Linked DNA regions of Homo sapiens: all the other regions are linked to region 1. Evidence: fine-mapped QTL for protein levels in blood plasma. A gene starts in region 1. Each other region holds a variant in brackets. All regions are shown on one strand. Distances are from middle to middle. Region 1 holds the start of KYAT1 (kynurenine aminotransferase 1). Region 2 overlaps KYAT1-SPOUT1 (KYAT1-SPOUT1 readthrough). Region 3 holds the start of LOC105376286 (a long non-coding RNA gene).

What was found. PIP is the chance, under the fine-mapping model, that this variant and not a neighbour inherited with it causes the effect. Protein levels are from antibody-based Olink assays in UK Biobank. Linkage for the fine-mapping came from a reference panel and not from the study's own genotypes, which makes the PIPs less certain.
Region 2: its variant is fine-mapped to the plasma level of the KYAT1 protein (UK Biobank, PIP above 0.99). The variant lies in the coding sequence of KYAT1. If it changes the protein, the assay may bind it differently, which can mimic a change of level.
Region 3: its variant is fine-mapped to the plasma level of the KYAT1 protein (UK Biobank, PIP above 0.99).

What each region holds. Positions count from the first base shown.
Region 1 is chr9:128,878,286-128,886,541 of GRCh38, forward strand. It overlaps KYAT1 (kynurenine aminotransferase 1), which reads right to left and starts at 3,665. Exons shown (of 13, transcript NM_004059.5): 1 at 3,612-3,665. KYAT1-SPOUT1 (KYAT1-SPOUT1 readthrough) reads right to left here and starts at 3,665. Exons shown (of 25, transcript NR_182311.1): 1 at 3,612-3,665. LRRC8A (leucine rich repeat containing 8 VRAC subunit A) reads left to right here and starts at 3,848. Exons shown (of 4, transcript NM_019594.4): 1 at 3,848-3,965; 2 at 7,730-7,836. RefSeq lists enhancers at 3,735-3,884, 7,161-7,923 and a silencer at 3,915-4,194.
Region 2 is chr9:128,833,462-128,841,717 of GRCh38, forward strand. It overlaps KYAT1-SPOUT1 (KYAT1-SPOUT1 readthrough), which reads right to left. Exons shown (of 25, transcript NR_182311.1): 4 at 4,757-4,906; 5 at 4,590-4,676; 6 at 4,224-4,352; 7 at 3,341-3,461; 8 at 2,536-2,612; 9 at 2,318-2,407; 10 at 2,020-2,206; 11 at 1,862-1,941; 12 at 279-365; 13 at 1-182. KYAT1 (kynurenine aminotransferase 1) reads right to left here. Exons shown (of 13, transcript NM_004059.5): 4 at 4,757-4,906; 5 at 4,590-4,676; 6 at 4,224-4,352; 7 at 3,341-3,461; 8 at 2,536-2,612; 9 at 2,318-2,407; 10 at 2,020-2,206; 11 at 1,862-1,941; 12 at 279-365; 13 at 1-182. The coding sequence ends at 123. Among named protein-coding and RNA genes, the nearest start is that of SPOUT1, 7.8 kb to the left of the region's middle. RefSeq lists an enhancer at 4,871-5,371. The variant T/C (reference allele first, on the strand shown) is at 4,670.
Region 3 is chr9:128,312,502-128,320,501 of GRCh38, forward strand. TRUB2 (TruB pseudouridine synthase family member 2) reads right to left here. Exons shown (of 8, transcript NM_015679.3): 3 at 4,651-4,725; 4 at 3,066-3,127; 5 at 1,307-1,388. It overlaps LOC105376286 (a long non-coding RNA gene), which reads left to right and starts at 1,050. Exons shown (of 3, transcript XR_930377.3): 1 at 1,050-1,404; 2 at 1,597-1,746; 3 at 2,923-4,398. The variant G/C (reference allele first, on the strand shown) is at 1,149.

The sequences.
Region 1 (8,256 bases):
CACCACACCCAGCTAATTTTTGTATTTTTGATAGAGATGGGGTTTTACCACGTTGCCCAGGTTGGTCTCGAACTCCTGAGCTCAAGCGATAGTCCCACCTCAGCCTTCCAAATTACTGGGATTATAGGCATGAACCACCACACCCAGTCAACAAGCTATTAACATTTAAACCTACCAGGCTTTCCATAAAATTAGTAACCAAGCAAAATGAAAAATCTCTTATTATATAATGAATCCAAATTTTTTTTGATAGAAAAAAAACAGAATTCCCTGAAGACAAATGTTTGGTGACAATTTGTTGAGCCAATGTTTTCCTGGAGAGAACAGCCTGTCTGAGGAGATCTAACAATTGCGTCACTCAGACACAGTCCCCCTGGGCTTAGGAATTGGCAGAGGAGAGAGAAATGACTTCTGGAGTCCAGACGGCAGGTTTACAGGCTGGAGGGGTTGGTGGAAGACCTGAGTGACACAAACAGTAGGTATCTCACCACTTATTCCTCCTGGCACAGGACCCAGATTCAAAAACCACAATCTCACTCCCATACATTAAAGGAACACACAACAGATAGGCAGATAGCCTCGCGGGAGCCTTGGAGGAGGTGGCATCAGCTTTACAGGTGGGGAAACTGAGGCTTAGAGAGGGGAAATGACTTACTCGAAGTCCCAGAAAAGCACCAGGAGGCCCCCAGCTGCAAGCTGGGGAATGAGGGCATAGGATGAGCATTTTAAAAATTATGCCGGGAGGCCGGGCGCGGTGGCTCACGCCTGTAATCCCAGCACTTTGGGAGGCCGAGGTGGGCGGATCACAAGGTCAGGAGATAGAGACCATCCTGGCTAACACGGTGAAACCCCGTCTCTACTAAAAATACAAAAAATTAGCCAGGCGTGGTGGCGGGTGCCTGTAGTCCCAGCTACTTGGGAGGCTGAGGCAGGAGAATGGAGTGAACCCGGGAGGTGGAGCTTGCAGTGAGCCGAGATTGCACCACTGCACTCCAGCCTGGGCGACAGAGTGAGACTCCGTCTCAAAAAAAAAAAAAGGAATTATGCAGGGAACTGGCAGTGCCATCCAGGAGTGGGATGTGGCCCCAGGTCTGTTCTGGCAGGAGTTACAGTGACTGCCTCATGGCTGTGAAGGCTCCTGCATTCCTTTATCGCCCCCACCTGGATTATAAAATCAGGCGCCCTACTCTTTGGAGCTTGGAGAGGTTAGTGTGGCGTTCTGGTGGTTGGCACCTAATGGAGGCATTCTCCGGGAGGAAAGATTCCTGCTGAAGCCAGACTGAATGGGTCTAACTTGTATATTCTCCAATCCTGTTGGTCACCCTCAGTTTCTTAGTGGACACCAAGGCCAAGTCCAGGGTAGGAGCCCATCTCTCCTTGAGTCTCCAGCCTCATCATTTCTCCTTCTGGACATCCTAGTTTCCAGTCACATTGAAAGTCCCTTCCTTGGAGAAGCCCCTTCTGACTCCACCCAGGCTAAGCCACATGTCCCCTCCCAGGTGGTCCCAAGACCTGGGCTTCCGCCCTCAAAGTACTCAGCACGGGGGCGCTCAACTCCAAGGACAGGAACTATGTGCTTGACCTGTTCTCCACCAGATCCTCAGCCTCTGGCAGCTCACCCAGCACAGAGTAGGTCCCCCAGGCATTAGCACAGATGATCCTGGGAAGCTAAGGGAGAGGCCTGGGAGCCCAGCAGCCTTCCTAGGGAGGGAGGGAGACCTGTAGGAACCCCCTTCTGGCAACTTTCTTAATCTCTCTGTGCCTCACTTATCTGTAAAATGAGACTTATCTGCGTGTAAAATACAAAGTATAATACGTGGGAACATTCACTGTCTACAACTGTGGTTCTGGTTGTTCATTTTACAGGCGGGGACATGGAGGCCCACGGAGTACCTGGCAGGCCCACAGTCCACAGGTTGGAAAGAGGTGCCCAAGCCCTGGACTTTAAGCCTGGGCTCTGACCTTCAACGTTTGCTTTTCACACCACACATCATGTCAATAAATAGTTACTGGATGCCTGTTGTGTGCCAGGCCCCAAGACGGGTGTTGCGTGACTGACAACAGAAAAAGCATCTCAGTGGCGAGGGATAAGCTAGATCATGGGCATTAGTGTAAATCTCCCAGGGTTCAAATTCCAGCTTCTCCACTTCCTGGCTATGATTTTTTTTTTTTTTTAGACGGAGTCTTGCTCTGTTGCCCAGGCTGAAGTGCAGTGGCCCAATCTCAGCTCACTGCAAGCTCTGCCTCCCAGGTTCATGCCATTCTCCTGCCTCAGCCTCCCGAGTAGCTGGGACCACAGGCGCTCGCCACCACACCCGGCTAATTTTTTTGTATTTTTAGTAGAGACGGGGTTTCACCGTGTTAGCCAGGATGGTCTCGATCTACTGACCTCGTGATCCGCCCGCCTCAGCCTCCCAAAGTGCTGGGATTACAGGTGTGAACCACCGCGCCCGGCCCTGGCTATGATATTGCTAAGTTTCCTAACCTCTCTAAGGTTCTTTTCTCTTCTATTAAAAGGGAAAAATAAGACCTCCCAACAGAAGTGAAACTAGGCATTGGCTTAACACGTGATGGATGGGAGCCACGACTATCTTCATCATCTTATTTTTAATTATCTATCTGTGCACATGGTAGTAAATTTCTCGCCCTGGCCCAGGTACCCAAGACCCCAATTCTGTCGGAGACAACCGCAATTAACAACTTCTTGTGCATCTTATCAGACAGCTGGCGCGCACACCCGCAGATACGCCCACCCTCAGGCGTCCTTCTACGCAAAGATGGATAGCACCCATCAACGCTGTTTTTTCTTTTTTTAGACGGAGTCTCGCTCTGTCGCCCAGGCTGGAGTGCAGCGGCGCGATCTCGGCTCACTGCAAGCTCCACCTCCCGAGTTCATGCCATTCTCCTGCCTCAGCCTCCAGAGTAGCTGGGACTACAGGCGCCCACCACCACGCCCGGCTGATTTTTTTGTATTTTTAGTAGAGATGAGGTTTCACCAAGTTAGCCAGGATGGTCTCGATCTCCTGACCTCGTGATCCGCCCGCCTCGGCCTCCCAAAGTGCTGGGATTACAGACGTGAGCCACCGCAACCGGCCCAACGCTGTTTTTACTGTTGTTTCCTTTTTTAACCTAAGGTATCTTAGAAGTCACCCTACATTAGTGCATATTAAACATTGTTCGTCTTAATGGCTGCACAGTATTCCACTGTATGGATTATTTTTTAATTTGGTTGCCGGTACTGTTATCAGCCAGGGAATTTGCGAGGACCCAGCGGGATTTATGGAGCTGCAGAGTTGGAGTCTGGGGACCCAATTCCAACCCCAGATCTGTCCAGAATTCTGTTGTCTCGGGTATCATCTCCACCGGCGCGGTCGTGGGAGGGGGATTTGGGTGCAGACAGGACCAGCCCCAGTGTCCGAGCGAGAATCAGCGAGCAGCACGCGCAGTTGATTCCCGCGGGCGGCTCAATCATTCTGTGCAGCCACTCCGTTATACTTAGTAGCATCAAACTCATTAAGCACTCTAGCACAACCAAGCTCGGAACCGTTAGCCGACCCTCCCAGCCTCGGCACCTGACCTTGGGGAAGTGGCGCTCCGACACAGCTACTCACCCTCACCTGGGCCGCTTCACCCCTCGTTCCCAAGTACACCCCGTAGGTTGCAGCAGTCCCTGTCCCTTTAAGGGGGCCGAGCCCGGCTCCGCTACTTCCGCCCCGAAGCAGCAGGGCGCTAGCGCGGAGGCGAGAGCGGGAGAAAGCGCCGCTAGAATTCTCCTCATAAAGATGGCGACGCCCTGGCCGCCGCGTTCGCGCCCGGCGGTGACGTCACTTCCGGGGCGGAGGAGGCTGAGTGGTGCAGTGAGGGACAAACAAAAGGAGGCGCCGGAGCAGCGCTGCGGCCGGCGGCGGGACGGAGCGGCCGGGGCCTGGGGCTGCCTGCCGGGCGGCCGGGCGCGGCGAGCCCAGGTGAGTGGACGGGGTGGGGAAAGGGGCGCGAGCTGTCACCTCTCGAAACCCACTTACACACGCCCTCGGCCAGCTGCCCGGCCCGGGGCGCCCGGGGCATCTGGGGCTCTGTCTCCGGGCCGGCCCCCTGGGGACCTCCCGCGGTGTTCGGCCTACCTCTGGGCTCCCCAGTGCCCGGAGTCTCCGGGGCACCACCTTCTCGCCGGCTCCGCGGCGCGCGAGCCCCCTCCCAGGCACCCCTGTGCCTCCTTGTGCTTCAGAAACCAGGAGTTTCCGCCTCGGCTCCCCCATGTCCCCTTGTCATCCCCTGGGTCCCCCCAGATCCTCACCCCTCCACACACACTCTCCCGTTCCTAGAGGTTCCACCTCTGGGCTCTCTCCTTGCCATTTCTTTTTCAAAGATTTCCTTAGCTGTCTTCTCCTGAGTTCCTGGTCCCCTTCTCTTCCCTTGCACCCCTCCTTCCTATCGTTCCGATGGGGGCAGTGCCCTGACTTGGGGGCAGGATCCCCGGCTAGGCTCTTGGGGCCTTTCTGGGATGGGATATTTGGGAAGACCGGTCCGGAATCTAAGAACCCAGACCCTGTCCCAGTCCTGTGCATTCAGGTGGGCCCGAGGGCGAGGCGAGATCCAGTGAGGTCCAGGCCTGGTGCAGCCCTAGGTGAGCTGGATACCCAGCAAACTGAGCTCCCAGGCTGAAGGGGCATAGCTGGGGTCATGGAGTTCATGATGATTCTGCTGCTTTCGCTGACTGCTTCTTCCCCTTGATCTGGACCGGGGTGAACCGAGGTCTGCCGGTTCTCAGCTGTTGCGATTGTTGCCTTTTTTGGGAAGGAGGGATGGGTCGGGGGTTGTCTGGTAGCCGCCTCCTGATGGAGACTTGGCTGGAAGGGTGGGCGGTTCCTGGGTGAGCCACACTTCCACTGACTCCTCTTCCCCTGCCCTACCTCAGGAAGCCTTTTGAGAATGAGGTGTGGAGGGAGAGCACCTGGTAAGAGGAAGGGAACTGGGGGAGCCCGAAGTTCCCAAGGACCTCTTCCACCTCTTCTGTTAGTAGTACTCTTAACCCCTGCCAAACTGTATTCTGCCCTTTGGAGCAGACAACCTGGCAGACAGACAGGCTGTAAGAAGCGGGAGGAGATCGGCTGTTGCTGATACTTCCTGTGGAGGGGATGTGGGAGTGGGAGTTTGTTCAGAGAGACTGGGCAGTGCTGATTGCTCAGTCTCACTGGTGTTGCTTCCATGAAGGTCAAGTCTTCCTCTGGCTCATGAAGTGAGGCAAGGACAGATGACCTGTGCTGGAGGAGGCTGTTGTGGACATGCCAGGGATGAGTGACTGGGTGGCTGGTCTCTGCTTCCTTGTTTTCCTGGTCTCAGGGCTTTGGCATGGGGTCTGATGCCCTCTGCGTTCTAGGGACCATAGGGTACAGAGCAGGGGGTGCAGGGCCGGGCGTGGTGGCTCACGCCTGTAATCCCAGCACGTTGGGAGGCTGAAGCGGGCAGATCACGAGGTCAGGAGTTCGAGACCAGCCTGGCCAACATAGTGAAACCTTGTCTCTACTAAAAATACAAAAAATTAGCCAGGCATGGGGCTGCGCACCCGTAATCCCAGCTATTCGGGAGGCTGAGGCAGGAGAATTGCTTGAACCCAGCAGGCAGAGGTTGCAGTGAGCCAAGATCGCGCCATTGCACTCCAGCTTGGGCAAGAAGAGCAAAATTCCATCTCAAAAAAACAAAAAAAAAAACAGAGCGGGGGCACAGGAAATGTTCATGACTTCCCCCCAGAACTTGACTAGATGTGGTGGTTCTCCATCCCTTAGGCACACCCACCAGGAAGCCGTTTCCTTTGCAAACTCTTGAATGACCTTTCTGGACTGTAGGGAATCCTGGGGATCACTGCCGTGGGTCAGAACTCAGGGAAGTGGCCGGACCCTGGGTTGCTGCCTGGCTTGGCCTGGACCTTGCCTGTAGGAGTTGGAGGGAAATCAGCCTGGTTCCTGACTGCCTCGTCTTAGAGTAGAGCTGATTCCAGGTTTTCACATGGAGAAACTGAGGCACACACTGATGGGCCAAGACCTCTTGGAGATTCAGGTGGGATGGATGTGGGGCTCTTAGAGCCCAGCACAGTGTCTCTCCATGCCTTGACTCATTCATTCATTCATTCATTCATTCAGCCATTCTTTAGAAAGTGCCTGTCTTGGGCCTGGGATGGCTGGGAAAACATCCCTGGCCTCCTGAGAGCTGCAGTCTGGGAGGACAGGCAAACCAGAAGACACATAAGTTCTGATATACTGTGGCCACCATATTAATAGAAATATTACAGAGGCAGCCCAGAGGAAGAAGGAATTAGCTCTGGGTGGTTATGTAGGGGGTGGTCAGGGTATGCTTTCTGGAAGAGGAGGGACTAGAATAATTAGTGACAGGGAGTCCAGGGGCCCAAGTTCTGGACCTGGCTCTGCCATGGGCAGGTGATTGGACCACCCAGCCTCAGTGGGTGCCCCATCCTTGACAAGGAGGGTAGAGTGAGGTAGAGGTTGGCTTGGATGGCCTCCGTGCCTATATAGCTGTAGGTACTTTACTGCCTAGTCACCACCACCCCGTATGGAATTGCAGGGTTATTGACCTACCTCCCATGACGGCGGAGACCATCTTCCATGTCTGCCCTCCCAGCACAGGGCCTGGAACTTAGTCAATATAGTAAATACCCAGTGGTAGAAATGATGGAAAAACAGCCATCCCTCCTAGATCAGTCCAGGTGTCTTTGTCTACCCCCGCCCTCCTCCTTCCTGGGTAACTCCTGCTGATCCTTTGGCTCTCTCTGGTGGCTGGGCCACTCTCCCAGCTCCTGGCTCCCCGAAACCCGTGTCGTAGTGATCACAGCTTTCCCTACCCTGCCACTCCCATGCACAGTTCTGCACAGTGTCTGGCGCATATGGAGTAGATGCTCACCAGAGGCTGGTTGACTGTCGGAGATGATGGGTGGATTTGGTGTTTAAGTTGGAGTCTGGGCACTGGCTGGTCTCTGCCTGACCCAGCCACCCCACTGTGGCTCATCTCTTGCCACTTCCCCTCTCTGGCTCTGGATCTCGCCATGCCGAGCCCGCAAGCCTTCTCCAGATGCCATGTACTCTCTCCTCCAGGTAAACATGTGCTGTTCCTCCTGCCTGGAATGCTCTTTTTCCAGCTCCTACTCTTAGGAGTCAACTCAGACAACTCCTCCTCCAGAAAGCCTTCCCTGACCCCACTAGTCTGGGTCTAGTGCTTCTCCTGGCTCCCCCGCAGCAGAGCTCTGAGCTCTCAGACCGTCGCTACTGACTTGGCACCTCCTCAGTAGACCAGGTTCTGGAGGGAGGTGCTCTGTCAGAACCTCTTTTGTCTGCCAGGCGCGGTGGCTCATGCCTGTAATCCCAATACTTTGGGAGGCCGAGGCGGGCAGATCCCTGGAGGTTAGGAGTTTGAGAGCAGCCTGGCTAACATGGGGAAACGCTGTCTCTACTAAAAATACAAAAAATTAGCCAGGCTTGGTGGTGCGCACCTGAAATCCCATCTACTCGAGAGGCTGAGGCAGGAGAATCACTTGAATGCGGGAGGCGGAGGTTGCAGTGAACCGAGATTGCACCACTATACAAAAAAAACCTCTTTTGTCACCCCAGAGCCCAGCCAAGGGCCTGCTACCAAGCAGGCTCTCAGGAAGTGCTGGCGGTGTGGCAGGTAACTGCGACAGTCACACATGTGCCTGCTGACGGCAGCTCTCGCTTCCTTGTAGGGAGGCAGCGTCCATGGAGCAAAAGGAATGCCAGGATCCTGCACAGGCAGACGCGGGCCAGCCTCAGCACCGACAGCCGACGCGCAGATAGCAGAGCCATCCTTGGGGTAAGGACTGGGCCCCTCTCCTTCTCAGCCAGCTCCAGCTCCAGTCAAGTGCCCTTCCCAGCCTGGGGAGCAAAGGGTAGCATCTCCATCCCCACAGTCCTTTGCTTTTCTTGCTGTAGGTCCAGGGTAGAGTGGCAGACAGCAGAATTACTCTCTTCCTCCTTCTCCCGCTGAGTAATGTGTGCTTGCCGCACTCATTGAATGCTGAGTTGTTTCATTGCAAACCTCTGTTTTTTCTCCTTCACCCCAGATCTTATCAGTCTGGGTCTTGCTAATGCAGCCTCATGACCACATTTCCCAAAAAGCGTGGACCACGTTTCCCAAGTGTGTTCCATGAGACACCAGTTTCTTCGGTCACAGTGGTTTGATAATTCCAGGAAACAAAGACTTCTTGTTATCCTTGCTGCAGGACTTATCAGA
Region 2 (8,256 bases), 45 kb before region 1:
AAGAGGTTTCCCAATAGCATCTTCCCCAACCTAGAAATGTCTGAAACCTGGACAAAGACAGACACTCAAAGAGGATCTCTGCGGGCATGTGGGGATGTCAGGGCCAAGGCGTGACTTCAGGGCTAGAGTTCCACCTTCCACTTCCGCAGCTTCTCGTCCATGGCCTGGAGCGTGGCTTCATCCTGCGCCAGCACAGATTAGTCCTACACTCTCCCCATGTGCCCAGCCGGCCTTGGGAAGCTCTGTGAGGTCTTTCCTCCCCCAGCCCTGCCCTTTACCTTCACAAAACAGAAGCGGATATAGTGGTCAAAGTGCTTCTGATGTGGCACACTATAGAAGATGGAGACAGGGATGGCCACCAAGCCCTGGGGAGGAGGAAGGACATGTCTCAACACGGCCTCGTGGCCCAGCAGGCCTTGGCTCCGGAGGGGACAGAGAGGTTCCCACGACCAGGCGGGGAAGGAGAGTTAGCTCCAATCCAGCACCTAGAGCTGCATCAAAGTCAGAGGAACAAGGCCAGGTGCGGTGGCTCACGCCTATAATCCCAGCACTTTGGGAGGCTGAGACGGGTGGATCACCTGAGGTCAGGAGTTCAAGACCAGCCTGGCCAACATGGCTAAACCCCGTCTCTACCAAAAATACAAAAATTGGCCGGGTGTGGTGGCGCATGCCTGTAATCCCAGCTACTTGGGAGGCTGAGGCAGGAGAATTGCTTGAACCCGGGGGTGGAGGTTGCAGTGAGCCAGATTGCGCCACTTCACCGCAGCCTGGGCGAAAGAGAGAAAATCCATCCAAAACAAAAACAAACACAAAGTCAGAAGAAAAGAATCCCAGAACATCATTCCAAGTCCCTCCCTGGGTATAGAGGGCAGAGGGAGGCTGACAGAGGGAGGATCATGGAGCAGGTCAGGGCAGAGCCAGAGAAGAACAAAGCCTTAGAGTCACAGATCAAACCTGGATGAACTCAAGAGTTAATGGGCCAACTCCTCACTGTACAGATGGGAAGATGGAGATCCAAAGAGGCAGGAAATCCTGCCAGCCCACACAGCATCTCTGTGCAAGTTAGAAACAGGTTCCTCAGGCCAGGCACGGTGGCTCACGCCTGTAATCCCAGCACTTTGGGAGGCCAAGGGGAGTGGATCATCTGAGGTCAGGAGTTGGAGACTAGCCTGACCAACATGGTGAAACCCCGTCTCTACTAAAAATACAAAAATTAGCCAGGCGTGGTTGTACATGCCTGTAATCCCAGTTACCCAACTACTCAGGAGGCTAAGGGAGGAGAATCGCTTGAACCCTGGAGGTGGAGGTTGCAGTGTGCTGAGATTGCGCCACTGCACTCCCACCTAGGCGACAGAGTGAGACTCTGTCTCAAAAAAAAAAAAAAAAAAAAAAAGGCCAGGAGCAGTGGCTCACGCCTGTAATCCCAGCACTTTGGGAGGCCGAGGCAGGTGGATTACAAGGTCAGGAGATCAAGACCAACCTGGCTAACATGGTGAAACCCCGTCTCTACCAAAAATACAAAAAAAATTAGCCGGGCAAAAAAAAGTAGCCTGTGGTCCCAGCTACTCGGGAGGCTGAGGCAGGAGAATGGCGTGAACCTGGGGGGCAGAGCTTGCAGTGAGCCAAGATCGCGCCACTGCACTCCAGCCTGGGCAAGAGTGAGACTCCATCTCAACCAAAAAAAAAAAAGAAAGAAAAAAAGAAACAGCCTCCTCATTCTCTGAAGTGGATACAACCCTGCCCCAAGGTTGACGGCAGAGGCTGGACTAAGATCTAGCCCAGGAGCCTCTTGCCTGGGCACCCTTGAGCAGCACACAACCTGTGAAACCATACATGGCTGCCTGGCAGAGGCCCAGCCCACCTTGTTCTTGATCATCCACTTGACGAAGCGTCTGTCATAGGGCTCATCCACAGCTCCAGGCAAGTCAGGCATCTTCCTCTCTGGGAGACAGAGGCCACACTGAGCCCCCTGCAGCCTCCAGCCCCTGCGCCCTGCCCAGACCGGCAAGTCTCACTCACTGAAGTCTGAGATGTCTGTGATGAGGAAGTAGCTGCCCTGAGGGATGATGGGCTTCAGGCCCACTGACTGTAGGCTACGTATCATGTGGTCACGGCAGCGCTGCATGGCCTGCGGGAACTGCACAAAGTAGCTGCTGGGTTGGCGGAAGAGCAGCTGCTCCCGTTCAAAGCTCTCGGCTACTGCAGCCTGGGCAGGGCAGATGGACACACAGATAGATCAGCTGTTCCCTGACGCGGGGGCCAGCCTGGGCTCTTTTGTTGTCCCCCCACTCCCCCGTGACGTCCTGCCCCTCTTCACCTGGCTCTGCGTGGGGCAGTGGAAGACGGAGTTCTGGTGCACGGTCCGCAGGTGCTTCATGATGTGATCTGGACCCAGGACCCAGCCCACCTGCAGCAGGGGCGCAGGTAGGGGGAGAGGTCCTTCCAGACCTGGCTAAAGCCTTCTTCATTCTCAGGCCCACCTCACTTGCCAAGGATCTTGCAGGGGGTGGTGACCTCCCACCCTCAGCAACTCACCTTCCAGCCAGTGGCGCTGAAGGTCTTGCCGGCGCTGCCGATGGTCAGGGTCCGTTCCCACATGCCAGGGAGGCTGGCTGCCCAAGGCCGAACAGAACAGCTGCTGAGACTGGGGTGAGGGGGACGGGGGAGGATGGTGGTCTGGGCCCCAGGGGACACGCATAGGCTTTTGACACCCTGGATTCCTCTACATACTAAGTTATTTGCACAATTTTTTTTCTTTCTTTCTTCCTTTCCTTTCCTTCCTTCCTTCTTTCTCTCTCTCTCTCTCTCCCTCCCTCCCTCCACCCCCCATTTCTTTCTTTGTTTTTTTTTTTTTTGAGATGGAGTCTCGCTCTGTTGCCCAGGCAGGAATGCAATGGCGCCATCTTGCCTCACTGCAACCTCCGCCTCCCAGGTTCCAGTGATCCTCCTACCTCAGCTTCCTGAGTAGCTGGGACTACAGGCACGTGCCACCATGCCCAGCTAATTTTTGTACTTTTAGTACAGACAGGGTTTCACCATGTTGGCCAGGCTGGTCTCAAACTCCTGACCTCAAGTGATCTGCCAGCCTCAGCCTCCCAAAGTGCTGGGATTACAGGTGTGACCCACCATGCTCGGCATAGGATTTCTTTGACCTCATCCTTTCGACAACCAGGGAGGCAGGTGCTACTGTGACACTGTGTACTCTGGGAGGCAAAGGTCACAGGATCTGCAGGGCTCCATAACCCTGGGTTCTAACTACCAGGCCTGCGCTGACTCTCAGGTGGGGTCAAGGCCCTCCCACCAATGTGCAGGGGAGGGGCCCCAGGCTGGCTTGGCTCACCAATGCTGATGTGCTGGTGCCCGTCGTAGACCATCCACTGGTAGACTTCATCAGTGATACACACCACGTCATGCTGCTGGCAAAGGCTGGCCACCAGCTCCAGCTCTTCCCTGGAGAACACCTGCAGATGCCCAAGGAGAGCACAGACCTGCAGCTGGGACCGTCCCCAAACACAGAGGCCTACTCAGAGAGGTTAAAGAACACAGCTGCGGCCAGGTGCGGTGGCTCACGCCTGTAATCCTAGCACTTTGGGAGGCCGAGGCGGGCGGAACACTGGAGGTCAGGAGTTTAAGACCAGCCTGGCCAACATGGAGAAACCCCGTCTCTACTAAAAACACAAAAATTAGCTGGGCATGGTGGCGGGTGCCTGTAATCCCAGCTACTCGGGAGGCTGAGGCAGGAGAATTGCTTGAACCCAGGAGGCAGAGGTTGCAATGAGCCAAGATCACACCACTGCACTCCAGCCTGGGAGACAGAGCGAGACTCCGTCTCAAAAAAATAAATAAATGGCGAATACAGCCAAGCCCAGTGCTAAGGGCTGTTCTGCACCATCACATTGGATCCCTGCAACACTGACCATGAGGTCAGTTCCCTCAGGTTCCCACATTACAGATGAGATACTTCGAGAGGCATAGTCACTATTCCAGGGTCACTGGGAAGTGATGGTGGCTCCCAGCCCAGTTCACTGTCCCAGCCCTCAGGCCTTCCCTGGGGATTCTTGCCCCTGTCCTGGGACCTCTGGAGTCTTGGTCCTCAGTGCTCATTGTGTGTGGCCCTCCCACACACAAACGAAGAAACGGAGGCCCCACAGCAGCAACTCAGTAACAGTGCAGGAGACATGACCAGGTCCGCAGGGGGCCAGGGAAGGAGGTCCCTCCAGTACCTTGCCCAGGGGGTTGTTGGGGGTGTTGAGGACCAGGGCTTTGGTGCGTGATGTGAATTTGCCGGCCAGCTCCATGGGGTCCAGCTGCCAGTTGCTGCTGGAACCCAGTTCTCCATTCTGGATGGGACCCTGCAAGAGCAGGTGGCATGGGGTGGTACCACTTAACCACCTGACATGCAGGTCTTCCCCAGCATCTATCCCCACCTTCTCTCCCCTGGGATCCCAACACACACACCTCCCCTCTGCCCTCCCAGCTTAGAGGAACTGGCTTCCTTCACTTCTTTCCTCCTTTTCCAACTCCCAGGGTCCAACTCAGCCCACGCCTTGGATCCCTCTGCCCATCCATCCTCTACCTAGCATCCTTACCGGCTTCAGGGACACAAACACAGGACGACCCCCTGCCATCATTGTCATGGGCTCGTAGCAGTCAAAAAAGGGTTCGATGA[T/C]GATGACCTGATATAAGGGTCAAATCAGCTGGAGTCAGCATGGCCCTGACCTCTCAGTCCCACTCAGCCCAAGTCTTGCCCACTCACCTCGTCTCCTTCGTCCACCAGGGCCTGGAAGGCTGTGAACAGGGCCCCATAGCCACCAACAGTCACCAGCACATTCCTGAGCGGGTCTATCTCCTGACCCAGCAGCTCCCCAAAGAAACTTGCCAGGATCTTCGTCAGTGGTGGGTAACCCTGCCAGGACAGCAGGGGTTAACTGTCCAGCTCAGCCTGGGCCCATCCTCCGGCCCAGCTGTATCCAGGCAATTCTAGCACCTTCCAGCAGCAGGCCTGGGGGCAAAGTCAGGTACTGGTAGCCTGGGCCCCAGGGGACGTGGAATAGATCAGCTTTCAACACTCTGGATTCCTCTACACACCAAGCTATTTGTGGGATTTCTTTGATCTCATCCTCTCAACAACCCAGAGGCAGGTGCTATTGTGATCCTGTGTACTCTGGGAGGTAAAGGTCACACAATCTATATGGTCCCAGACTCCAGGGTGCCAACCACCAGGCCTGCACTGACTCAGATATCCAGTGCTAAGCTCTTCCATCTCCTCCACCAGCATTTGCCACAGGGCCTGTTCTGTGCCAGGCCCGAAGCCCAGGGCGGGGATTTAGCAGAGAACCAGAGGAAGTGCTTGCCTCCATGAACCTCAGTCCAAGAGCCCACAAGGCAGTAGAAACTCCCCACTTTCCACATCTGTAAGTTTAAGAAGCATGTTTGTGCCCACTTGATCCTCCCAGCAGCTTTGCGGGAGAGGCTTTTATTTATTTATTTATTTATTTATTTATTTATTTATTTATTTTGAGACAGGGTCTCACTCATGTCACCCAGGCTGGAGTGCAGTGGCACAATCGCGGCTCCCTGCAACCTCCGCCTCCTGGGTTCAAGTGATTCTCCTGCCTCAGCCTCCCAAGTAGCTGGGACTACAGGCACGCACCACCATGCCTGGTTAATTTTTGTATTTTTAGTGGAGACGGGGTTTCACCATGTTGGCCAGACTGGTTTCGAACTTCTGACCTTGGGTAATCTGCCTGCTTTGGCCTCCCAAAGTGCTGGGATTACAGATGTGAGCCACCGTGCCTGGCCTGATGCCCACTATTTGACAGGTAGAAAAATAGAGACCCAGAGAGAAGAAATTACTTGTCTAAAGTCACACACAGTTGACAGTCAGGAACCTCATGTTGCAGCTTTGTAAGCACCCCTTTTTGAGAGGAAGATTAGATCCAGAAACTTGTTTGCTGAGGACACTTATAAAATACTCAAGGTGAAACCCCGTCTCTACTAAAAATACAAAAAATTAGCTGGCATGGTGGCGGGCACCTGTAGTCCCAGCTCTACTCGGGAGGCTGAGGCAGAAGAATGGCGTGAACCCGGGAGGCGGAGCTTGCAGTGAGCCGAGATCGCGCCACTGCACTCCAGCCTGGGCGACAGAGCGAGACTCCGTCTCAAAAAAAACAAAAACAAACAAAACAAAACAAAAATACTCAAGGCTAAGCCAAGTGATTGAAACTTTATCTAGAACTCAACTCAGTAACTCACTAAACCAGATTTGGCCACACAAATATAAAAATTTTCTGTACAACAAGAGGCACAGGCCAGGCACCGTGGCTCACGCCTGTAATCCTAGCATTTGGGAGTATGAGGCGGGAGGGTTGCTTGAGGCCAGGAGTTTGAGAACAGCCTGGGCAACACAGAGGGACTCTGTCTCTACTGATGGAAAATCAAAAAAATTATCCAGGTGTAGTATCACGTGCCTGTAGTCCCAGGTACTCGGGAGGCTGAGGCAGGAGGATTGCTTGAGCCCAGGAGATCAAGGCTGAAGTGAGTTATGATCACACCAGTCTGGGTAATAAAACTGAGACTCTGTCTTAGACAATAAATTAATTAATTAAATAAAAATAAAAGGCACCATGAGCAAGGTCAAAACAGGAAGAGAAAAATATTGCAACATACAAGAAAGAGGTAAAATATTTAATGAGGCTGGGCACAGTGGCTCATGCCTGTAACCCAGCACTTTGGGAGGCTAAGGTGGGAGGATTGCTTGAGCCCAGGAGTTTGAGACCAGCCTGGGTAACATAAGGAGACCCTGTCTCTATTTTGTTGTTGTTGTTGTTGTTGTCACCCAGGCTGGAGTGCAATGGCACCACCTCGGCCCACTGCAACCTCCGCCTCCCGGGTTCAAGCGATTCTTGTGCCTCAGCCTCCCAAGTAGTTGGGATTACAGGCACCCACCACCACGCCCAGCTAATTTTTATTAGAGATGGGATCTCACCATGTTGGGCAGGCTGGTCTTGAACTCCTGACCTCAGGTGATCTGCCAGCCTTAGCCTCCCAGAATGCTGGGATTATAGGCGTGAGCCACCATACCCAGCTTTTGTCTCTAGTTAAAAGAAAAAAAAAAGAAAGAAAGAAAGAAAAGAAAAAGATACATACCCAAATGATTTTTTTTTTTTTTGGATCAAAGAAGGAACTTTCCAACCAGCTCTGAGACCAGCCTATTGGCAGGGATGTAAATGAGTAAACCTTACTGGAGGGCAATTATTTACTTAGTTGTTTGTTTATTTTTCAGACAGGATCTCACTATGTTGCACTGGCCTCAAACTCCTGGGCTCAAACAATCTTCCTGCCTCAGACTCCCAAGTAGCTGGGATTATAGGCACACACTGTTTCTTAACAATATCCACCTATTGTATTTATAAATATTTATAGTCTTTCTTTTGCTAGTTTTACCTCCAGGAATTTATCTTAGAGAAATACATATGTATACAAAGATGTCCACACAGGGATATTTGCTGTGGCATTGCTTATGATATTGAGATAGCAGAAGCAGTCCATCAGTGCAGAACTGCTTAAATAAATTATGGCACATCCAGGCAACAGAACAGTATGCAGCCATTAAAAAGAACGAGTGCGGTCGGGTGCGGTGGCTCACGCCTGTAATCCCAGCACTCTGGGAGGCTGAGGTGGGTGGATCACGAGGTCAAGAGATCGAGACCAACCGGACTAACATGGTGAAACCCAGTATCCACTAAAAATACAAAAAATGGCCAGGTGCGGTGGCTCACGCCTGTAATCCCAGCACTTTGGGAGGCCGAGGCAGGCGAATCACGAGGTCGGGAGTTTGAGACCAGCCTGGCCAACATGGTGAAACCCCGTCTCTACTAAAAATACAAAAATTAGCTGGGCATGGTGGCGGGCGCCTGTAATCCCAACTACTCAAGAGGCTGAGGCAGGAGAATGGCTTGAACCCAGGAGGCGGAGGCGGAGGCGGAGGCGGAGGTTGCAGTGAGCCGAGATCGTGCCGCTGCACTCCAGACTCCAGCCGGGGCGACAGTGCGAGACTGTCTTAAAAAAAAAACAAAACAAAAATTAGCTGGGCGTGGGGGCGCACCCCTATAGTCCCAGCTACTCGGGAGGCTGAGGCAGGAGAATCTCTTGAACCTGGGAGGGGGAGGTTGCAGTGAGCCGAGATTGCGCCCCTGCACTCCAGCCTGGCGACAGAGGGAGACTCCATCTCAAAAAAAAAAAAAAAAAAAGAAT
Region 3 (8,000 bases), 570 kb before region 1:
CAAACTGCAAACTTCACCTCCTAGGTTCAAACGATTCTCCTGCCTCAGCCTCCCGAGTACCTGGGATTATAGGCGTGCACTACCATGCCCGGCTAATTTTTTGTATTATTATTATTTTTTTTTTTTTTTTTTGAGACGGAGTCTCGCTTTGTTGCCAGGCTGGAGTGCAGTGGTGCAATCTCAGCTCACTGCAACCTCCGCCTCCCAGGTTCAAGCGATTCTCCTGCCTCAGCCTCCTGAGTAGCTGGGACTACAGGTGCCTGCCACCACGCCCGGCTAATTTTTGTATTTTTACTAGAGACGGGTTTTACCATATCAGCCAGGCTGGTCTCAAACTCCTGACCTTGTGATCCACCCATCTCGACCTCCCAAAGTGCTGGGATTACAGGCGTGAGCCACTGCGCCCGGCCTCTTTTTAAAATTTAGAACAGTAGCCAGGCGTGGTGACTCACACCTGTAATCCCAGCACTTTGGGAGGCCGAGGTGGGCAGAATACCTGAGGTCAGGAGTTCCAGACCAGACTGGCCAACAGGGTGAAACCCAATTTCTACTAAAAATACAAAACATTAGCTGGGTGTGGTGGTGTGCACCTGTAATCTCAGCTACTCCGAAGGCTGAGGCAGGAGAATTGCTTGAACCTGGGAGGTGGAGGTTGCAGTAAGCCAAGATCGCGCCACTGCACTCCAGCCTGGGCGACAGAGCGAGACATCGTTTCAAAAAAAAAAAAAGAAAAGAAAAGGAAAGGCTGGGCGCGGTGGCTCATGCCTGTAATCCCAGCACTTTGGGAGGCCAAGGAGGGCGGATCATGAGGTCAGGAGATCCAGACCATCTTGGCTAACATGGTGAAACCCCGTCTCCCATCTCTACTAAAAATACAAAAAAAAAAAAGCCGGGCGTGGTGGCGGGCGCCTGTAGTCCCAGCTACTAGGGAGGCTGAGGCAGGAGAATGGCGTGAACCCGGGAGGTGGTGCTTGCAGCGAGCTGAGATCGTGCCACTGCACTCCAGCCTGGGCGACAGAGCGAGACTCCGTCTCAAAAAAAAAAAAAAAAAAAGAAAAGAAAAGGAAAAGGTCAAAGACTGACGAGATGGAGAGAAACTAGAGTCTTTGGAAGTGACGTTACATTTGAGCTAGGCAAGCAGGGGAGTA[G/C]AGGATGCTCCTGGAGCACAGATCCCGTGGCCAAAGCCTCAGCCCAAGCCTAGTGTGTGCAGTGGAACTGAGAAGGGGCCAGCGTGGCCTAGGGCGGGGAGAGGACTCAGGGAAAGCAAATGCGGAGGGAGGCAGCGGCAGCCACTTCCGGTTCTCACCATAGGTTGTCTTCTCTACCAGCCTCCCGTCCTCACGGAAGTCATCTGTAGCTTTGCCCAGGAGGCCACGCACTGTGTAATCCTTCAAGGACAGGGAGGTAAAGATCCGTCAGTGACCCCATTCTAAGCCCTAGTAGCCCCTGCCCCAGAAGCTGGGGGTGGGGGGTCCTCAGGTCTCCCTCAGGAAGCTCATGTGCCCAGCCCCTGCCCAGCTGCTCCACAGCCCCAGGAGGAAGGGCACCAGCTCTGTCATGTGGCCTTCAGCAGCTCTTGCTCTCTTTGTATTCAAGCTCTCCTGTCACCTGGGGACAGTAACAGGGCCAGTCTCACAGTACTGCTGCCTGGATTCAGCAGGACATGGTACCTGGCTCCCAGTCAGCAGGCTTCCTACAAGACTGCTGGCTGGTTTCCATGACAACCAGCACTGGCAGCCTCCAAAGGTACTGACCGCTGACAGCCACCCTGTGGCCACCCCAGGCCTCCATGTTTCTCCTCTCCAACCTAACTCGGCAATTTATCACCCCGAGCCCCTTCTAGCATGCCCTGTAGGCTTCTCTCCACGCCTCTAAATAGAATGAGATTCCATGGCCCAGATCAGGCCCTTGCTCATCCCTGCTTGTAAAAACTCCCCCTCCTCTGAATCTGTGCAGCTAACCCCATCTGCCACAGATAAGTAATGATTGGCTGGATACAGTGACTCACACGTATAATCCCAGCACTTTGGGAGACAGAGGCGGGTGGATCGTCGAGTAGCTGGGAGGACAGGCATGCGCCACCAGCCTGGCTAATTTTTTTGTATTTTTAGTAGAGACAGGTTTTCACCATGTTGTCCAGGCTGGTCTTGAACTCCTGGCCTCAAGTGACCCACCCACCTCAGCCTCCCAAAGTGGCAGGAGCCACTGAGCCCGGCCACAATTTTTAAAATTTTTATAATTTAAAAAAATTTTGTAAATAGAGATGGAGTCTTGCTATGTTGCCCAGACTGGTCTCAAATTCCTGGGCTCAAGCAATCCTCCTGCCTCAGCCTCCCAAAGTACTGGGATTACAGGTATGAGTCACCACACCTGGCCCTCATTCCCATTTTACAGATGAGGAAACTGAGGCACACAGATATTAATTAGGTAATCTACCCAAGGACACACAGCTGTCAGAGTGGTAGAAGCTGGGGTTCAAACTGAAGCCATTTGGCTCCAGAATTTGTGCCCTTAACCACTAAAAACATGGGCCCCATAACGTGGCACCTGCGTACATACTTTGTGGTATCAGACTCCATAGCCCCGACCCCACCTCTGGATGGTAAGCTCCCTGTGGGTAGGATGCTGACATCTACCTCTCAGTCTTGGGACAGAATAGGGAATGGCATCATGATCAAGCTCTGGTGTTGGAGAGACCTAGGTTCAAATCCCAGCTCTTAAAGCCCTAACAACTACATGACCTAGGTAAGTAACATCTCCTCTCTGAGCCTCAGTTCTCTCATCTGTGAAATGTGGCTAACAACAGATTCCACTTTACAGGGAGGCTGTGAGGCTTCCCTAAAGGAATCCACGTACAGTGCTCAGCACAGAGTAGTCGGCATACACTAACACTGGTAGTTATTATTGTTATTATTATTACAGCCCCTGCACAGCACACGATCATCAAAAAAATGCTTGCTTATGGCTTGGGTGTTCCCCCACGGAATCCTCTAAGCTTCAGAATCCTGCTGGTGACCCCCAGGAAAGGACCAAGGGAGAAGCAGGCTGTCCCCAGACCCTCGTACCTTGGTAAGATGAGCATTGTACATATCGGTGAGGAGCCTGCATCCATGTCCCACGCCGAGCACTGAAAAGCAGCCAGCGTCATCTCACACCTGGGACCCCCTTCCCATTCCCCTAAGTATCCCCACCCCTACCCCCACCATCAGAATACTCCCTTTTCTGATGCTGCCAAAGGCAACAAGAAGGCAAAAAGATCTTCTACAGGGGGCAGGTGCACCCCTCTGGGTATATATCACATGCAGATTGCTGGGCCTTACCCATATGCACTGAATCTGACTCATGGTTGGAGGGGGCCTAGGATCCCTGCCAAGCTCTCCACAGGATTCTGACACCTGAGAGGAAGAGATCCCTGGCCTAGTCACACAAACCTGCACTCAAATCAGGGACAGCTCTGAGTATAATCTTTAGCCTCTTTGAGCGTCAAGTTCCCCATCAGTAAAATGGGGGTAAAAATACTGTCTGAAGGCCAGGCGCAGTGGCTCATGCCTGTAATCCCAGAACTTTGGGAGGCCGAGGCAGGTGGATCACCTGAGGTCAGGAGTTTGAGACCAGCTTGGCCAACATGGTGAAACCCCATCTCTACCAAAAAATACAAAATTAACCAGGTGTGGTGCTACACTACACTCCAGCTTGGGCAACAAGAGTGAGACTCCGTCTCACAAAAAAAAAAAAAAAAAATTAGCCAGGCGTGGTGGCGGGCACCTGTAATCCCACCTACTCGGGAGGCTAAGGCAGGGAGAATTGCTTGAACCCAGGAGGCGGAGGTTCCAGTGAGCCGAGATCATGCCATTGCACTCCAGCCTGGGAGACAGAGCAAGACTCTGTCTCAGGAAAAAAAAAAAATACTGATTCCTGTGGGTGCTGTGCAGTCGGCACAGAGGAAGGGCCCAATAAACGGTGGCCACTGTGGTCACTTCCTGCCTTTCTCCCGGTCTGTTTCTCCCTCTGGCTGAGGGACAGAATAACTCTGCATTCACTCGTGGGGAGACAGAACAGGGAGAGGGGGCATGAGATCATGTCTGCCTGCCTGTGCCTCAGGAAGCAAGACAAGGGGACTGTGACTGTCGCGGCTGGAGGATGTGGGCACCACCTGACCCTGGGGACACAGATGGCTCATGACTAGGGCTTTGTGTGTCCAGACCCAGCCACATGCAGGCCCTGGCCATTAGGTCCAGAGTCACGCGCCTGGCTGCCCCATGATGCAATGATGGTTTTCCTTCTCCGGACCAGGGGTATTCACTGGCCATGGGACCCAGAACAAGTCACCTAAATCCTACTTTCTTCTTCCATAAAATCATATAGTATCTACCTAATAAAGTTGTTGTGGTAAATAAATGTGCATAAAGGGCCTCGAACTATGTCATGTGTGGGAATCACTGAATAAAGGTGGGTGACTGTGGTATTAACCTGTGATTACCTCCGTCCCACCTATCCACTCCCCAGCTGATCAGCCTTGGGGCAGGAATCAGGGCAGGAGAGGAGTGGTGGGACGTGGGTGCCAGGTAAGAAGTGGGCTGGGCTCCTGGTAGCTTCAGGATCTTTTCTCAAGCCTTATCACTGTACCCCCAGGCTTCTCACATCACCTACCAAGTACTCCAGAAGCCTGGGCATCCAACCGATGTCCCACGCCAACCTTGAGATGGGCGAATGCTGGTCCACATACTGGAAAGAAACAAACAAGGTCCATTTTCTCAACTAAATGCCACCCCAGGATGGCTTTGGGCTGCATGTTGACCTCGTTCTCAGAATGGGCCTCATGGAGCCCAAACTAGCATCAGGCCAGACTCTCAGGCTTCCCCGTCATGGAATCTGGGACCCTGAACTGTATCCTCAGTGCCCTGGGATCCAAAGGGCAGCCCAAGATGCCTCTTACTCTGCCTATCATCAGTCTCCCAGTGAGAGGCTCTAAGAAGACTGGCGTAACACTGAAGGTCAAGAGTGCGGGGTTCCCTGCCCAGCTCTACTGAGGAAGAGTCCCTGGAGGAAAATGGAGGCTGTGAGCTCCTTAAGGCAGAACCTGGGTGTGTCAACTCACTAGCTGCTCAGGAAAGAACTACTGAAAGAATAAATGCAGGAATGAGCCAGAAGTGTTTACACTTCTACAGATTAAGAGGAATCTAGGGGAAGAGTCCAGGGTAGTTAAGGGCCTATTGAATCCAGGCCATGTTACTAAATGTCAACACTGAGCCTCAGTTTTCTCCCTTGTGAAATGAAAATAGGACCCATCTCACAGCACTGTGGTGATATCAATGAGGATTGTACTTGGGGGAAGCTTAACACAATGCCTAGTACAGAGTGGCGACTCAATACATTATACTTCTTATTGTTACCATATAATAGAGTCATTGAATATCACAAGTCCAACGGGTTTTTGAGGTTTCTGGTCAAACCTCTAGATTCCCTGACACATGCCTTAATCACATCTAGTGATGGGGACACATTACCAGAACCAGTTCCATTGTTGGGCAACTTTATTCAGTAAAAAAATCACTCTTTCGGCTGGGCGCAGTGGCTCACACCTGTAATCCCAGCACTTTGGGAGGCCAAGGTGGGCGGATCACCTGAGGTCAGGAGTTCGAGACCAGCCTGGCCAACATGGTGAAACCCCATCTCTACTAAAAATACAAAAATTAGCTGGGTGTGGTGGCACACACCTGTAATCCCAGCTACTTGGGAGGCTGAGGCAAGAGAATAGCTTGAACCTGGGAGATGGAGGTTGCAGTGAGCTGAGATCACACCACTGCACTCCAGACTCCAGCCTGGGCAACAGAGCAAGACTCTGTCAAATAAATAAATAAATAAACTTATTCTTTCCCAGAAACCCAAAACCCCTACCTTAGGACTTCTACCTAGGGTCTCATTTCTCACCTGGAGTCCCAGAATAGAAAAAGGGTCAGCAAACTACAGTCCACAAGTCAAACCTGAAGACTGAAGACTGTTTTTTTTTTGTGTGTGTGTGTTTGCTTGTTTTGTTTTGTTTTGTTTTGAGATGGAGTCTCACTTTGTCACCCAGGCTGGAGTGCAGTGGCGCCATCTCAACTCACTGCAACCTCCACCTCCCAGATTCAAGCGATTCTCATGCCTCAGCCTCCTGAGTAGCTAGGATTACAGGCACCTGCCTCCATACCTAGCTAATTTTTTGTATTTTTAGTAGAGACGGAGTTTCATCATGTTGGCCAGGCTGGTCTTGAACTCTTGACCTCAAGTGATCCGCCTGCCTCGGCCTCCCAAAGTGCTGGGATTACATGAATGAGCCACCGCATCTGGCTTGTTTTTTGTGGCCTATGAGTTAAGAATGGTTTTTGCATTTTTCAGTGGTTCAAAATAAATCAAGAGACCAGTTGCAAGGGCTCACGCTTATAATCCCAGCACTTTGAGACGCCGAGGCAGGCAGATCACTTGAGCCCAGGAGTTCAATACTAGCATGGGCAACGTGACAAAACCCCATCTCTACAAAAAATACAAAAATTAGCCAGGCATGGCCGGGCGTGGTGGCTCACACCTGTAATCCCAGCACTTTGGGAGGCCGAGGCGGGTGGATCACGAGGTCAGGAGATCGAGACTATCCTGCCTAACATGGTGAAACCCCGTCTCTACTAAAAATACAAAAAATTAGCTGGGCGTGGTGGCGGGCGCCTGTAGTCCCAGCTACTCGGGAGGCTGAGGCAGGAGAATGGCGTGAACCCAGGAGGAGAAGCTTGCAGTGAGCCGAGATCGTGCCACTGCACTCCAGCCTGGGCAACAGAGCATGACTCCGTCTCAAAAAAAAAAAAAAAATTAGCCAGGCATAGTGGCCTGTGCCTGTAGTCCCAGCTACTCGGGAGGCTTAGGTGAGAAGACTGCTTGAACTCAGGAGGCAGAGGTTTCAGTGAGCCGAGATCTCACCACTGCCCTCCAGCCTGGGTGACAGAGTGAGACCCTGTCTCTAAATAAATAGAATACTACAGTTGTCCCTTGGTATCCAAGGGGATTGGGTCCAGGATCCCTTGCAGATACCAAAATTTGTAGATGTTCAAGTCCCTGATATAAAATGGCATAGTATTTGCATATAACCTAGGCATGTCGTCCCATATACCTTTTTTTTTTTTTTTTGAGGCAGAGTCTCACTCTTTCACCCAGGCTGGAGTGCAGTGGCACGATCATGGCTCACCACAACCTCTGCCTCCCAGGTTCGTGCGACTCCTCGTAACTCAGCCTCCTGAGTAGCTGGGATTACAGGTACGTGCTATCATGCCCAGCTAATTTTTACTAGAGACGGGGCTTTGCCATGTCTTGAACTCCTGACCTCAAGTGATCCGCCCACCTTGGCCTCCCAAAGTGCAGCGATTACAGGCGTGAGCCACCACACCTGGCCACTTTTTTTTTTTTTGAGACTGAGTCTCGCTGTGTCGCCCAGGCTGGAGTGCAGTGGCACGATCTCCGCTCACTGCAAGCTCCGCCTCCTGGGTTCACGCCATTCTCCTGCCTCAGCCTCTGGAGTAGCTGGGACTACAGGCGCCCACCACCACGCCCGGCTAATTTCTTTGTATTTTTAGTAGAGACAGGGTATCACCGTATTAGCCAGGATGGTCTCGATTTCCTGACCTCGTGATCCGCCCACCTCAGCCTCTTTATTTTTTTTGGAGACAGAGTCTCACTCTGTCACCCAGGCTGGAGTGCACTGGCACAGTCTCGGCTCACTGCAGCCTCTGAACTCCTGGGCTCAAGTGATTCTCCCACCTCAACCTCCCGAGTAGCTGGAACTACAGGCATATGCCACCCCACCTGGCTAATTTTTTTTTTTTTTTGAGACAGTTTCACTCTTATTGTCCAGGCTAGAGTGCAATGGCACAACCTAAGCTCACCGCAACCTCCGACTCCCGGGTTCAAGCAATTCTCCTGCCTCAGCCTCCTGAGAACCTGGGATTATAGGCATGTGCCACCACACCTGTCTAATT